2 separate regions of the Homo sapiens genome follow, and region 1 is linked to region 2. A link means that fine-mapping ties the variant in region 2 to the expression of a gene that starts in the linked region. Tissue or cell type: minor salivary gland. Region 2 holds a variant in brackets; the other region holds the start of a gene. All regions are shown on one strand. Distances are from middle to middle.

Region 1 (8,174 bases), 270 kb before region 2:
CACAGCAGGCACTGCTGCACTTTTATTCCTGAGGAAATGGGGGGAAATGACCAGACTTGCCATGGACACCTCGAATGAAAGCGAAGGCAGGAGGTGCAGGGAGGGAGGGACTGCAGGACAGCAATGTTGAGTGGAAGAAACAAGAACCCTGGCATCGGAGGAACCAGGCTCTTGTCCAAGCCACATCCTCCCCGACAATCAGCGAGGCACACAGGCTTTCTGCATCCTGGCCTCCTTGTCCAGAGTGGTATCGATCATGTCAGACACTGAAAATACCCCCCTTAGGTCATGCATCCGTCCCTCCCCATGCCACCTCCACAGAGGGACTGCATCCCAGAGACCAGCCACGTCCTCTGCAATGTGCACCTAAACCTTCACCCCAGCAGACGCTCCCCATTCACCACAGCGCTGCAGCCCCCAGGGAGTCTCAGCACCACCTGAACTTGACTTTCAAGAGCCGGAGGCAACAGCAGCCAGCCCTTCACACCGAATCCATCTGCATCCCTAGTGGGAGACTTGGGCCGGGCTGCCTGTGCATTCAGGGGTGGAAGTAGTGGAAGCCAGGAAGGACAATTCCCTTCGGAGAGTAGAGAGGGTTCGCAGTGGCCCGAGGAGCAGGCTTCCCAGAGAAAGTCCCTTTGGAAGGATGAGTCCTCTTGCTCTGCCAGGCCCTCCACACTGCCCATCCCCTCTAAGCCGACAGCAGGCTGCCCTGCCAGTGTTCCTGCCACCACTGGGCTGGCTGCCCTGAGCCACGGGGCACAGGCCATAGCCCCGGTCTTACACAATGGACCCTTTCCCAGAAGCTGAGGCTGTTGCATAAAACAGAAACCCCTCCCCCTGCACTCCACCCCCACCATGCCCCTCCCAAGAACTGCTTATCTGAGCTCACCCATTTGCCATCACAGAACCAACAGGACGATGGGGTTCCCCTTCCTGAAATGGTTCACATCCAAAGCCCGCTCAGCCCAGCAGGCCCATCTGGACACTCAGTAGCACATTAACAAGGAGTGCCTCTCATGAGAAGTAATCAGGCGCAAAGAGCCAGGGAGCAGCGTGGGAGAAGAGATGGGGTCAGCGCCTTCCCCAGAGATGGGGTAGGGGGCGGAGACCGGGCTCACCAGGAAGGCTGTGGTCTCACGGGCTCTGCCCCAGCTGCCCACTGAGCCCTGAAATGCCTCCAGCAGGAACAGAGCCTTTGTCATGCCAGAGAGACAAAGCCAGCCAGAAACACCTCTCTGCCAGGGGCCCCTGAAAGCAACAACTTCTGGAAAAACCCATTCAGAACTAGGTTCTGACCAGAAGACAGGGTGCTGGGCCATGAAGAATGGGGCAGCCAAAGGCAAGATACAGGAAAGGAATTCCAGACTCAGCAGCGGGCACAGAGTCTGCTCCAGGGAGCCTGGGGTCCCTGGTGAACCATCCAGCTCAGACCTGGGAAGGAGGTCGTTCTCTCACCCAACCTCTCTACCCTAGCGGTGAGGCTGAAGCCCAGAGAGGGCATGGGACTCCCTAGAGTCCACAGCATGCTCATGGTAACCCTGGGATGAGAGCCCAGCCCTCCCGACCCCTAGTCCAGTATTCTTTCCTTGATTCCAAGTCACTTAAATATCTGAGCCTCAGTTTCTTCATCTGTAAAATGGATCTAATCCAGACCTCAGAGAGGGGAATGTGTTCTGTAAACACGAGGGTCTTATGTAATCATAGTAAATTCTGACTACTTCCAAATTAGACTGAGGTCTGAGGCTGGGCATTGGCAGTGTCTAATCAACATGTCTGGAGAGGGGCAGGAAAACCGAGACAAGCACACAGAGGCCACCTGTGGTCCCCCGGACTGTGTGGCTCTGCTTTGCTGAAATGATTGACCACTTTTTAAAGTACTTATGAATCACTGCAGGGCTGGTTATAATGTTGGTTCTGAGACTGCTTTTCCAGCCAGTCTGCAGGTGATATGGATGCTGCTGATCCAAGGAATGTTCTAGAACCGTGACTGCACAGCCGACCTCCTTTCCTTTGCTCGGACTCACCTCCCCCCTCATCTCCTCTGCCTCCTGGGAGCCTGGCTGCCAGCTGCCCTGGGTGGAAGAGCCATGCCAAGGCCAAGGCCCTCGAGTCCCCAGCACTACCACACAGCCTCATTCTCCCTAAGAAGGCTTAAACCACTTGGCCTTGCTCCTTCTACCAGAAAAGGCCGGTTCTGTGGACAAAGGGGCTGCTCAGGGGAAGAGGAGGAGGAGAAGATGGCGGGGGGTGGGGGGCAGGGGGGGCGGGGGGAGCAGGCAGACTTTGGGAGCAACTCCCCTCCAGGCACACCCTCCTGGGAACTTTGAACTGAGCAGCTTCCCAAAACGTTTCCAAGCAGGGCAGGGCTGGAGGCTTAAGAAAATCAATGACCTGGCAGGGCGCATTGATTCACACCTGTCACCCCAGCACTTTGGGAGGCCAAGACAGGCGGATTACTTGAGATCAGGAGTTCGAGACCAGCCTGGCCAAGGTGGTGAAACCATGTCTCTACTAAAAATACAAAAATTAGCCGGATGTAGCAGCATGCGCCTGTAGTCCCAGCTACTCAGAGGCTGAGGCATGAGAACTGCTTGAACCCGGATGGCGGAGGTTGCAGTGAGCCGAGATGGCGCTACTCTACTCCAGCCTGGGCAACAGAGTGAGACTTGGTCTCAGGAAAAAAAAAAAAAAAGAGAGAAAAGAAAGAAAGAAAATCAATGACTGTGAACAGGGAGCCGTGGGGAGGATGGGAAGACAGTGAAGAGGGCACACAGATGGTGAGGGTTTCAATCCCAAAGCCCCGGCTCCTATCTGCTTCTTCAAATGGAGAAAACTAAACCAAAAGGAAAATAAGAAAAATAATCACCGGTAATTCATATCACCCAGAGGCAAAGGTTAGCACTGTGGTATATTTCCTTCTGTCTTCCATGCAGTTTATACAAGATTCTTCACATTCACCATCTTCAAATATTCTTTAAGGGCATACTTTTATGGCTATGTAATACTCCACTTACTCACGGACCTAAGTTTATTTTACCATTCTCACAAGATTGGCCATTTCAGTTGTGCCCAATGCTCCACTATTATTATAACTTAACATTTTCATGGGCATCTTTTTTTATATAGTATCTGTACTTTCCTTTAAATTCCTAACCTCTCCGTTTAAAAAATAATAATAAAAATCATATTTTTTTTAACTAGGTCCAGAAATTCTGGAAGGTCAAGAGGCTTTGGCTCGAATCCCAATTCTGATACTTATTTGCTGTTTAGTGTTGGCACCAGTCCTAAACCTCTCCAGGCCTCAGATTATCATCTGTAAAATGAGACTGTGGAATCAGAGGTCTGAGGCCTGGTGGATCTTGTGTGACTTTTCTCTGATGCACCTCAGATGCATTAGGAGGCAGAAAAAGTCGGATTTCGGTGGTTGCAGCATATACTGAAATCCGCAGCCTCATACTTACAGGCAACAGTGTCCAGAGAGCTAGAGAATTTAGAAGAAAACTAGATGACTCATGCATGCAAGCCGAAAGCCACAACTGAGAGATCCGCATCTTCGCAGAGGATATGCTGCAGGAAGGAGCTCGGTGCAGGCCAGCTCTGTCACCTGCTAGCCTGGGTCTCCCGCAACGCGGCAGGTCTCCAGGTCTCAGTTTCCCCATCTTTGCGAAAGGATGATCATTATATCTGTTCTATTTACCCCCCCACCACAGAATTGTGGTTGGAGCTCGTGCTCTCAGGCGGCGGTTGCGCCGGGGCCCCTGGCTCAGCTGCCTGGTGATGGGGCTCCGGCCACCTCCCCTCCCTGGCTTCCTGGGCTCCGTCGAAAGCGCAGGGGTTGTGACTGCGAGCTGTGTCATCCCTCTCTGCCTGGCTGCCATCCCCTGCCCGCCCATCCGTCCTGGTGTGGCTCTGCTCAAGGGTAGGGAAGACGGGGACATCTCACCGGTCAGCGGCACCCTGTGCCCGCGCGCTCCTCCTGGCGACGCCGCGTTGTGGGCACTGGGAGGCGCCGTATTTATAGCGCTCTGCTCGCGCACACACCCCCTTTGGGGCTGGCTGCAAACCTGCATGACTCACGCCCAAAGAATGCCGCGGAAAGCAAGGGGAGCTTTCTGGAAGCCGGGAGGTGGGGGCCGGTGCAGCACCGGGCTGGGGGCGCCGGGGGGCGCATCATCACCACGAATAGCTGTGCTGGCTCCAGGAGAGACCCTGAGGTGCGGCCGCTCGGCGCTTCCAGTAGGGAAGAGCCTGAACTCGCGTGCCCATCTGGGAGCCCCTCTCACGCGGTTAGCCCGGCTGTCTGTCCCAGTCCAAGACACAATCTCACAGTTCCCTGGCCCTACTGACCTTAACCTTCACATTACACAAGCGCCACTTCTCTTGACCCATTTAAATAGTAAAGAGTCAGACATAATGAGGGTGGGATGGAGAGGGGCCTTGTGCTGGAGAAGAGAGCACAGGAAGTATTGAAACGCCTACTCCTGGAAACATCACACTGATGGGGGTCCCTGGACTGACCCGCCAGGCCTGGAGGAAACAGAATTGTGTTTAGGAGTGATCAGAGCAGATATGTGGAGAGCCAGAAGGCCTCTCCGGGGTCCTTGATCCACAGAGCTTAAGCAATCACTGTCCCCATCTTTTTGGAACCCAACCAAGCAGGGTGGGCTTCATGGCTGTGGGACCCTTGCAGATCCACGTTTGGTTTAATGGGCTACTGTGACGGTCTTGAAATTCTTCATAGTTTTTGAACCAGTGGACCTGAATTTTTATTTTGCCCTGAGCCTTCCCAGTTAGGAAATCAGATCTGTGTCCAGAGGGGTTTGCTGGTCTCCAACTGCTGGAGTTCCTTCTGCTGAGAGCAGGGAGAATCTCCTGTCGCAGCCACCCCTCCCCCTGGCAAGGAGGGGCAAATCTAGGAACCCTGGAGGTGCAGCTACTTCTTGGGGAAGAAAGTGAGCTGCCCATTTTGGAGCCAGGGATGTTTAAGCCCCAGGAGAGAAGTCAAGGGGCTGACAGCTGGGGCAATGGGTGGACAGGGCGGGTACAGGCAGCCCCACTGTGGGTGGCAGACTTTGAAAACCATGTGAAACAAAGGGGCTTAAAGGAGAGCTGCGTGGTCAGGGGCTGAGTTTTCCAGTTCAGGATCAGGACTATGGAGGCACAACATGGAGGCCCAGTCCCTTGCTTGCCCAACGTCCAGGGGCCACTAGGACCCCAGTCCTTTTCAGGAGGCAGCCTCGGGGAATCTTCAAGGCCCATGACTAAGTGGGAGAACCCAGACCAGGTCCATGAAAGTCTGATTACAGTCCTAGGTGTGCCCCTAGACACTGGGTGACCTCGGACTAATCACTTTGCCCTTGGGCCTCAGTTTCTTCCATCTGGACGATGAGGAATCGGGAATGGATCATCTCCACGGCTCCCTGCAACCTAACCTAGAGCCAAGCCAAGTATTAGAAGGCCATTAACCCAGAAGAAGAAAAAAATGTCCCAGAAGAGGCTACACTTTATTTTTCTTAAAAAAAAAATGTCTAATTATCAGTAACAGCTACATTTTCTGTGGACAGTGCCTGCTCCTTATCAGTGCCTGCTCCTTATCAATACCTGAGGTTAGAAGAATTGTTTTTGAGCTCGCTCCTTGTAACTTTTCTGTTCTGTAGCTCCCTCAGCATCCGGAACAGAAGGCATAAATCTAGTTATATTTTTAAAAATTAGACTTTGGAGGTCAGTCAGTGAGATCCGCCTTAGCCAGCTGAATTAGGGGAAGGGAAGAGAGGAAGAAAGGACTTGGGAGAAAATAGCATGATTCACAGATTCACAGTCATGACTGTGATCCCTTGGGAATAATTACTTGATTATTCCCACTACTAAGCAAACAAGGTTCAGAAGGTCAAACTTTGAGGAAAGAAAAGTGTAAATTTTGAAAGCGCCATAAATGCATCACCAGATGTTTCATATTCTAAGCAGATCATAGACATTGATTGGTTCAGGACTCACACACTGCTTGATTCCTACCCCATCCCCAGCATCTGCACCCGGTGGTCATCCTGCCCATGTTTGAATGCCACCAATAACAGGGAGCTCACTACCTGCCATGCAACCATTTGTCTAGTAAAGCTGTTGATAAAGTTAGGGCCTTCTTTGGTTGAGTCACAGTCTGGCTCGTGTATGGGCCAATCCGGAGCCCAGTTCTGCCCTCTGGAGCCACACAGAGAAAATCCAGCCTATCTCTCCCATAGTGCCCCTTCTGATATTTGAAGGCAACGTAGTCTGCTTTTCCCAGTGACCTCCAGGCTTGCAGCTCCTTGCCTTGCCGTGGTTTGCAGACTTTTCCCCAGCCCTTTGACATTCTGGACCTCATCTCTCTTGAAACCCTTGGCCCAGCCCTGGACTAGCCAATGCCAGTGGGGAGCCTTGGACCAGCCAATGCCGGAGGGCCTGAGCACACAAAGCAGAACAGGACCACCCCTTCCCTTGCCCTAAACACTCCAAATAAGCTTTATCAGATGCTGAGTCACTGGGCTGATTCATAGAGAATGCATCATCTTCTTGGCAGGTGCTGCTGTTTGATCCTCTGTCTCCCATTATGGACTTACACAGCTGGGTTTGGGGCATTAGCTTGATTTATTTTCTTGGAGAGTCAGAGCCATGGGGAGGGCCAGGGAGGGATGAGTAAAGACCCTTGCATTTATCTGTTTATCTATGCTTTGTGCACCATCTCTGGCTGCCTGAATGTCTCTGGGGCTGCTTCGCTACGCAGTGTCCTTATTACACATCCCCAACCAGCCTTTGTCTGGCTCAGCACCACAAGCAGGACAGCTCAGCCAGCAGTCTGATACAGCTGGAACAAACTAGGAATGGGCAAGAGCAGTATCCTGTGGCCTGTGATTAAGAATCACTCTCAGATGGGCGTGGTGACTCACACCTGTAATCCTAGCACTTTGGGAGGCTGAGGTGGGAGGATCACTTGAGTCCAGGAGTTCAAGACCAGCCAGGGCAACATAGCAAGACCCAGTTTCTACAAAAATTAAAAAATTAGCCAAGCATGGTAGTGCATGCCCGCAATCTCAGCTACTCAGGAAGCTGAGATGGAGTATCGCTTGAGCCCAGGAGGTCAAGGCTGCAGTGAGCTACGATCGCACCACTGCACTCCAGCCTGGGCAATAAAGTGAGACCCTGTCTCTCAAAAATAAAAATGAAAAAAATAAGAGAATCACTCTCCAAGGGGAGCAGGGAGGGAGGATGGTGAGAGATTGGTCAACCAGTACACAGTTAAAGTCAGATGGGAGGGATAAGTTCTGGTATTCTATCGCATAGTAGAGTTTAACTTTTTTTTTAGGTCCCAGTATCTATTGCTCCCCTCTATGTGTCCATGTGTTCTCATCATTCAGCTCCCACTTATAAGTGAAAACATGCAGAATTTTGTTTTCTGTTCCTGTGTTACTTCACTTAGAATAATAGCCTCCAGCTCCATCCATGTTCCTGCAAAAGACATGATCTCGTTCTTTTTTATGGCTGCATAGTATTCCATGGTGTATACCGTAGTATTCCATGGTGTATATATACCATATTTTCCTTATCCAGTCTGCCACTGATGGGCATTTAGGTTGATTCCATGCCTCTGCTATTGAGAATAGTGCTGCAATGAACATATGAGTGCATGTGTCGTTATGGCAGAGCAATTTATATTCCTATATATACCCAGTAATGAGATTGCTGGGTGAAATGTTAATTCTGTTTTTAGCTCTTTCAGGAATCATCACACTGCTTTCCAAAATGGTTGAACTAATTTACACTCCCACCAACAGTGTATATAAGCCTTCCCTTTTATCCACAACCTCACCAGCACCTCTTATTTTTTGAATAATGTATATTTCAACATAGGTAGAAGAGAGAACTTACAATGTTCTCACCACAAAGAAATGTTTGAGATGGATTTGGTAATTACCCTAATTTGATCCTTACACAATGTGTGCACGTATCAAAACATCACATTGTACCCCACAAATATGTACCATTCTCGTGTCAGTTTTAATTTTTTTTAACTTAGTGAAAGGCTGGGTGCAGTGGCTCACGCCTATAATCCCAACACTTCAGGAGGCCGAGGTGGGGAGATCACTAGGTCAAGAGACCATCCTGGCCAACATGGTGAAACCCTGTCTCTACTAAAAATA
Region 2 (8,269 bases):
CCATTACGATATCATACAGAATCTTTTCACTGCCCTAAAAATCTTCTGTGCTCCACTTATTCAGTGAGACTATTCATCTCTCCCTCCTCCCTACCCCTGGCAACCACTGATCTTTTCACTTTCTCCGTAGTTTTGCCTTTTCCAGGATGTCATAGTTGGAATCATACAGTATGCAGCCTTTTCAGATTGGCATCTTTCACTTAGTAATAAGTAAGTGAACCTTCATGTAAGGTTGCTTCATGTCTTTTCATGGCTTCATAGCTCCTTTCTTTTTAGGACTGAATGGTATTCCATTTTCTATGTGCACCATAGTTTATTCATCCATTCACCTACTGAAAAACATCTTGGTTGCTTCAAAGTTTTTGCCTGGATGAATAAAGCTGCTATAAATATCCATGTGCAGGTTTTCATGTGGATGTCAGTTTCAGCTCATTTGGGTAAATATCAAGGAGTGTGATTACCAGATTTCTCTCCACTGTTTGAGACCCGGTGACCAGCAGCCTTGCCTGCTAGGGAGGAGGGTGTAGGAGAAATAGGAAGCCAAGGATGGTTAAGACTTTGTGGGCAGGTAGCATGGCTGTGTCCCGGGAAGTGTCTCAGCCCTGATTTGGTCATTCATGTTCACTTTCCCACTAGGCTGTGAGTGTGAAAGTGCTTTAAGCCAGAGAGAGCCAGTTGGGAATTCTGGTTCTGCCACTTACTATCTGCAACTGTGAGACACATTGGTTCATCAAATCTGAGATGCCACCTGTTGTAATGGGCGCCTGTTTTATATGCCACTAAGAAGGAAAAATCTCTGCTGGGTAGGTGGCAAATTATATCAAGTGCCAGGTGCTTCCTGATTTCACAGACATATAAATGTGTGTCACAGAATCAATGAAACATGGTAATAGATGTGAAGAACTCAGAATAGCACCTGGCACATAATAGGCCCTTTCGACCTGAATGACCTTAAGGTAGCCTCACAACCTCTCTAAAGGCATTTCCCCAACTGCGACATGGGAACAACATCTACACTGCAGGACTGTCATGCAAACAAAATGCAACAAAGCTAAAAGGGCTCTGGGGCACAATCCTGGCCCATGGAAACATCAGCAATGTGGGTCTGTTCCCCCTTCTCTGAGGGCTGAGCCCCTGTCACATTGATCTCTAAACTCAGTGCTTGGCACACAGCCTGGCTGGAGGAAATGAAAAATCAATGTTTGCAGAATGTAGTAGAGAGCCATTCCTGAGCATTACAATGCATTGGTTCTCCAAGGGGAAATGTTGGGGACCCAAAGAACACCAGAGCAACTGAAAGAAGCCTTTGGATCATCACAAAGCCAGGGTTTGGCTGGGAAGTCATAGTCTCAGGGTGAAACACATGGTCAGTGCCAGAGCTGGGATCACAGCTTGCGTTTCCTTATGTGTCTTCCCACATCCTTTTCACCATCCTGCCCGCCCCACTACTCTTGGGGGCTATTTCCCCTGCTGGGACCTGAGCATCCTCACTTGATAAGATACTGGAGTGGTCAGTGGGTCTTATCAAAATCATTAGGAACACCAGATTCCACGGCCAATCCAGACCTACTGAAAGAGAATCTTGGTGGCAAGAGTGAGGGATCTCTATTTTTCCAAGTGTCCCAAATAATTCAGAACAATTGGTTTGTGGGCTGTGGACTGGCATTTAGATTAGAGGGTCAATCAGCAAGGTTCCTTCTAGCTCCAACCCTCAGTAATCCAAGGCCAGAGAAGAAATCAGGGTCATCTCTTTTTAAAGCCAGAATCCACTGGTGTCATGTGGGGTAGGGGTGGACATTGTACTGGAACCCAGTGACAAGTGGGTGACACAATGCAGGAAAATGCCCATGTGAACTGCCAGAGAAAATAACAAACCTACTCAAGCCCTGCTACTAATAAGCGCGGCACTCCTGGACTTTTGTTTTTCCTTTATCTTGTATTTGGCCAAGTGGGCTGGAAGGAGCCTCCTTTTAATGACTGTGACTTGGCAAAGACTTTCATAGGTCCCGAAGGAGATGGCAGAATTGACATCTGTGCCCCATGAGAAAGGAGAGAACTCAGAACTGGCCACATGCCTGGGCCAAGAAAACCCCAGAAAATTCTGCAGAGGAACCGAGGAAGCCACCAGGAAGCGACCCCAACCCCAGGAATGATGCTAAAGACTACAGCGAGAGCACCAGGGATGCCTCCTCTCGATATTGGATGTATTTGCTGCGGATCCTTCATCCCTGGCCAGGTGACCGTTCTCCCCACACAGACTGCAAATACAAACTCATTCAGGCTGTCCCCAAACAGGCTGAGGCTATGCAAGACAACAGAGAGATCCTGGAGAAGAAAAACATGGAGAAGAGCTGGAATTCAGAGGCTGGGTCTGACACCAAGAAACTCCCCGGGAGCAGTAAGGACAGGCTAACCTGCAGCCAGCAGCACCAAGAGGGACCCGGCCGCTGCGCGGGGCCTTGGCCCTGGGTTGGCTGAGGCCAGGCTGTCAGCCCTGGTTTCTCACAGACCTGCCTCACCTCTGGCTGCACCAGGAGGCCTGCAACAGAAGCCACAGTGTGGGGTCAGCAAGTAGGGCAAGAAGTGGCAGGAGGGTGCTGTGAGTCACAGAGCAGGCCAGGCAGAAGTCAGGTGTGGGGTCAAAACAACAGGAAGAGTGTGACTGGGTGTGACTAGGCAGCCAAGGTAGACGGTCGGAGACTCCCTGACTTAGCCTCTCTGTTCTGGCCAGCCTGAACTCACTTTGTGCACCTACTCGTTTAGCCAAGTAAGTGACTGAGAGTCTATCAGACAGCTGTGGATACACCCACAAACAGAGTCCCTGCCCTCATGGAGCTGACATTCTAGGGAGAGTCTAGCAATACAGCTAGTCAACAAAAACAAAACCATAATTATAGCCAAGCGGTGATAAGAGCATAGATGGGAACAGAAGCACAGGGAGTACAGAGTGAGGCAGGCACTATTGTGGGCAAGTGAACAAAGGAGTGGAGAGTGAGGGCAGGCGCCATCTTGGACAAGTGGAGGAGGGAGGAAATGAGAGACAGGGCAGGCACCATCTTGGCCGGGTGGACAAGGAAGGAAATGAGAGAGAGGGCAGACACCATCTTGGCCGAGTGGACAAGGAAGGAAATGAGAGAGAGGGCAGGCACCATCTTGGACAGGTGGACAAGGGAGGGAATGAGAGGGCAGGTACTGTCTTGGACAAGTGAACAAGGAAGAGGGTGGGGAGTGAGAGCAGGTGCCATTTTGGACGAGTAGAGAAGGAAGGCCTTGAGTGGAGACCTGAATGAGCTGAGGAAGGACGTGGACTCCCCCACCTCAGAAAACTCCTTTCTGTACTCTGGCCTAAGCTTTCCTTGTCTTTTAGATCTCAGCTTAGATGCCTCTTCTCCTTCCCTGGTCCCCACACCCAACAGGGCCCCTTCTAGGTACATGCTTATAGCTTTGTGTCATAATTGCTATTGCTATTTACTCTCTTAGGACACTGTGAGCCTTCTGAGGATCACGTGACCTGGTACAGGGCCCGGTGCACTGAGATACCCAGCCTGTGCAAAGGGAAGGCATGCATGAATGGAGGGACTCATTAATATGGACCCAGATGGGCAGGTGCTGGCTGGAGGGCATGGCTCCCCAGAGTCCAGGGCTTTGGTGGCAACCTGAATGGAGAATCCAACATCAGGGCCCCAAATCTCCAGCATCCTCTTTATTACATCACAACACTTCTAATCACATACTTGCTGCCTTCTCTACTTGAGATGACTCTGGATTCTGGACCCAGAGCTCAGGCTGTTACAATGACCGTACATCTCAAGTGAGAGAATGGGGACATGGCTGTCAGATGATCATGGTGGGTGCAATGGGAAGTCTGGAAAATGTCATTTGGATGCTGAAATACTGAAATTCCCAAGAGGTTTCAATGTATATAGAAGTGATAGAAGAATATTTGGAAACAAGACACCTTCAAAAAATTGAAAACATATGATAACCATAATCACGGGATGCAAAGCATCAATTTCAAGGATGTCTCTGGCCCATGGCCCATGCTTACCATGCAT[T/C]GAGCAAAGTCATGGCCTGCAGGGCTCCTATGGTCTCCCCAGTAGGGACCACATTGATCTCAGGAACTGAAAAGTGCCCTCAAGGGAGAAAAAGAACTAGAGAGCACCTGGGCGAGGCTGCACAAGGCACCACTCCACCCAGACCCCAGTGTCGGTTCATTAAGCATGGAGGCCTGTTCCTCACCACCTGTCCCCAGATCCCCTAGACTCAGGGCTTCCCCCCATGGTGGAGGGCCGCCTGCCCACAGGGTCAACAGATGCTGCCTGCCCCAGCAGGGTCAACACAAATCTGAAAGCCACACCTTCTCCCCTGGACTCACCCAAATCAGAGGCCACATTTTGTTGTAGCTCCACTTCACAGAGCATGGCCCTAAGCTGTGGATTTTGCATCCTTTTCTCCCCACCCAACAAAATCTCAGCTCTGTTACCACCTCTCTGGGAAACCACAGGCTGAGGTCTGACTTGCTTATGATGTAGGCTGCCCTGATTCAGGAACTCAGAGTCTAAATTCAGAAACTTGTGTCTCTGGCCTCCTTTACCCCTGAAGAGGTATAGGGGAGGCAGGCAGGCAGGAGCCTTTCCCAGAGCTGAGCAATGAGGCCACCTCCAGCAACACACTTGGGGAATCACCAACGCCCTCCAACAGTGACTACCCTCTAGCCTGAGAAGGACGTCATCATTTAAGAGGTTTGGGTTTCTGTGGGCAGAGGGTTTAAATGCTGCTTTTTCCCGGCAGTTTCTGCCCCAGGTCAAAGCTTTCCCACCAAGCCACCAACCACCACTGGGAAATGCTCTTGCCCCACAATGTGTCAGCCCCGACTTAATCAGAAGTGGTGACTGAGAGGCAGCCTCAGCCTGGTCCGTGACTTCCCCAAGACTCTTCCTGTCAGTCCAGGGAGTTTTTTCCTCAGATGCCCCCCAGGAGGGTCCCTGCAGGGGGAACGGGGCTACTGGAGTCAGGGAGATGCCTCTCTCTGCACGTGGCAGTGGAGGAAAATGGGAGACAGGGATTCTTGATTGTGTGAAATTCAGAGACTCCTAGGCTCCAAAGCAAGAGCAGATGCTCCAGGTAGAGGGCAAAGGGCAAGAGAGCTGGTGATGAGCAATGGGACCCCAGGCTTTCGAGGTTGCAGCCACGTCCCCTAGTAACTGCCCTTCAATGACTGCGAGGCACCTTCACCTCCTCCTTGGCATCATACCACATTGAGCCCTGGAAAACCCTTCCTGAGCAAATGAGGATCAGCAACCCGGAAGAAAACCCTGCCCCATACCACTCCCGTGTGGGTATCTGATTTGCACCCCTCAGGTGAGGGCGTTAGGTGCAGAGACTATCACACTTTTCCTCTTGTTCTGGATCCCTAACCTGCAGACTGGGGTCTACCTGTCCATGCCTTCATGGTTTGCAAGTTAAGAGGATGGTACTGGCTACAAGGCTGGTCCCTACCAGCTCTGTGCAGGAATGGCACCGGCACATAGCATCACTTGGCTGGAAAACCCAAGCTGAAGGGAAACACCAAGAGCTATTCCTTACTAAAAACAAGGAGAGGCTGTTCTTGACAGCTTATTCCAATCCCCATCCCACAAGGCTTTGGCAGAGCTTTTTCTTGTAATGCCCACCCCTGCCCCCCATAGCAGAGACACCCAGATATCCACAGGGCTCATCTCTGTTCATCTTTTCCCTGCTTCCCCAGAACTGGGGACCACAAGCCCGAGATGGAGCAGGGACTTAGGGGCTGCTAGGCCCCCAAACATGGAAATAAAAGAAAATCTTGAGTATCTTCAAGGGAAATTCTAGGCTAGCCCCAAGAAGTAAATGAGCAACTTGGTAAGAAAGAAAGAAATAGTAGCTTAAAGCAATAGTCAAAGAAGTTAGAGTCAACCTCTGATGACTCTCTATAGAAACTAAAGAGAACATCTTAACATATGTCCCTGAGGTGTTTTTCAGAAACCCAGCTGGATGTTTTTCAGAAACCCAGAACCAAATGGATTTGCTGGCATATAGACCTCAAATGAGGGGAAACTGAGGCCTGAACTCTGATTGACGGACTTTTTTTTTTGAGACAAGGTCTGGCTCTGTCACCCAGGCTGGAGTGCAGTGGCATGATCTCGGCTCACTACAACCTCTGTCCCCCAGGCTCAAGCCATTCTCTCCCGCCTCAGCCTCCCAAGTAGCTGGGACTACAGGGTGCATGCTGCCATGCCCAGCTAATGATTGTGTTTATTCTTTATTCTCCAGTGCCACAGAATAAAGGAAAATTCCAGGCACCTAGCTAGCTCTGAGGACCTGGAAGAAGTCACATCCACAGGCCAGACCTTAATATTCCTTTCTGCTGAACCCAAGTTTTTAGACAAAGTTTCCCTTCCTTAACCAATTGCAAATCAGAAAGTCTTTGAAGCCATGTATGACCTGTAAGCCCTTGCTTCCAGATTTCCCACCTTTTTAGGCCAAACCAATGTATAACATCCATGTCTTGATTTAGAAATTTGCCTGTAACTTCTGCTCTCCTGAAATTTACCATTGCCTTTAAACAGCCTTGCTTGTAAGCCATCCAGGAGGTTGAGTCTTAAGTGTGAGCTACCAGATTTTCTTTGCTTGGTGCCTTGCAAATAAACACCATGCTTCCTCCCACTGCACAACTTCAGTATGGATGTTTGGCTTTACCATGCCAGGCAAGAAGATCCCACTTCGGTTTGGTTACAAGCCCCATCAACACCCTGTGACCAAGGTTCTTCCCTTTGATACAGAGAAGCAGAAAGAGAAAAGTGCTGTCACCTCAAAGCCCAGACCAGAGCATCCCTGCCTGGTTTCACTGTGTAACCCTAGGAGAGGAAAGTGGTTTGAGGGAACACAGGGCAGGAGACTGGCTCCTGGCTGGGTAGCCTCCTTGCTGTCTCCCAGATCAAGGGGCTCATTGTTTCACCCCACAACTTTTCTGGAGTGTCAATTCCAGCCTCGGCTTGGAGCTCTCTGCCTCACTGCAGCCCCAGACCACAGCACCTGCCTCCCCATTCCTCAACCTGTTGTACTGAGCCTGCCCTTCACCCAGGCCCCACCGGGACCAACCCCATGGTCCTCAGCCACCCTCCTTCTACAGGCCCCAAATCTCTCAAAGCTTGAGCTTGTTCCCCAGTAAAGAGGGTACAGCTGAGGCACAGATGAGGCCAGGTCATGGAGAAGATCAAGGCATGGGTCTGGACAAGGAATCTTAGCATTTTCTCAGGATATCACTAGGAACAACTTCCATTAGCTTAGTTGTCGGCAACAGATGTCCCATTACTTAGTGCTTGGAGTGATTTTTCGGTAATTATGACATCATCTTTGGGCTTTTCCAATAATCACAAATGATGGTGAAGCATAGCATTTGCCAGCTGGTAGAGACTTGAAGATGACACAGTCCACACTCTTTGCATGACACGTGTGGGAGCAGAGGCCCAGAGAGGTGACGTGCCTTACCCAAGTCATCCCGTAGCTAGCAGAAGAGCTGGGGCCTGAACTTGAGACTTAGCCCTCGGGCCAGTTCTCCATCTACACCCTCCTTTCTTTCCCAGAATCCTTTCTTCAGAAGATCCCTGAGCATGGTCCACCAATTTGCATCACGACTTTGATGCAAGATGCCTTTTGATGGAGCAGTTACATGAAAAACAATTACTTTAACCCTGGAACTGCAATGCTTCTAACTAAAATTCATAGAAACAGCTTGGTTTCTCCTGAGTCTTATGGGAGAACCAAGAAGACAGGGTTGCCTTTGTGAAGCACAGCCATTGCTGAGTTTGCATTTGAAAATGAACATGTCAACGATTGCACGCAGGGGAAGGATAAACCAGCCTTGGCTTTTGAGGAAAGTGATAATATTTGTTGAAGTCCGGGGTGATTCTACTTCCCGTGCACAGATATGCAGCACTAAAAATGCATTATCTGTATTAATTCTTTATGTATATTTTATCAATGTCTGTGTTTATTTTTTCAATTGCATATTTATTTATCCATCAATTTGCAGGTATGGAATTACTACCACATTCCAGGATTGTGCTAGGCACTAAGGATGCAAGGATAAATAAGTATTGTCTTTGCCCTGGACTCACTCAAATGAACTAAGAGTTTAAAATAGATAAGAAAGACCACAGAATGTCAAAGCTGGCAGAGAACTCAGGGGCTCCAAAACCCTCAGTTAGAAATGAGGAAACTGAAGTTGACAGAGAAGTCACCAGCCATT

Alleles and levels. Positions count from the first base shown, and alleles are read on the strand shown. Sizes are in standard deviations (SD) of each study's normalised expression.
As copies of C replace T in region 2, the expression in minor salivary gland of the gene that starts at base 3,992 in region 1 goes down (large effect, 0.80 SD a copy in GTEx).

The links. PIP is the estimated chance that this variant, and not a neighbour inherited with it, causes the effect.
Region 1: CLU starts here. The variant in region 2 is fine-mapped to the expression of CLU in minor salivary gland (GTEx, PIP 0.98).

The regions. Positions count from the first base shown.
Region 1 is chr8:27,610,709-27,618,882 of GRCh38, forward strand. It overlaps CLU (clusterin), which reads right to left and starts at 3,992. Exons shown (of 9, transcript NM_001831.4): 1 at 3,947-3,992. MIR6843 (microRNA 6843) reads right to left here and starts at 43; the gene lies at 1-43. RefSeq lists enhancers at 1-441, 3,624-4,123, 5,080-5,580, 5,871-6,627 and silencers at 2,405-2,590, 4,146-4,235.
Region 2 is chr8:27,881,963-27,890,231 of GRCh38, forward strand. All of the region lies in intron 7 of SCARA5 (scavenger receptor class A member 5), which reads right to left. It overlaps MIR4287 (microRNA 4287), which reads right to left and starts at 4,154; the gene lies at 4,077-4,154. The variant T/C (reference allele first, on the strand shown) is at 4,056.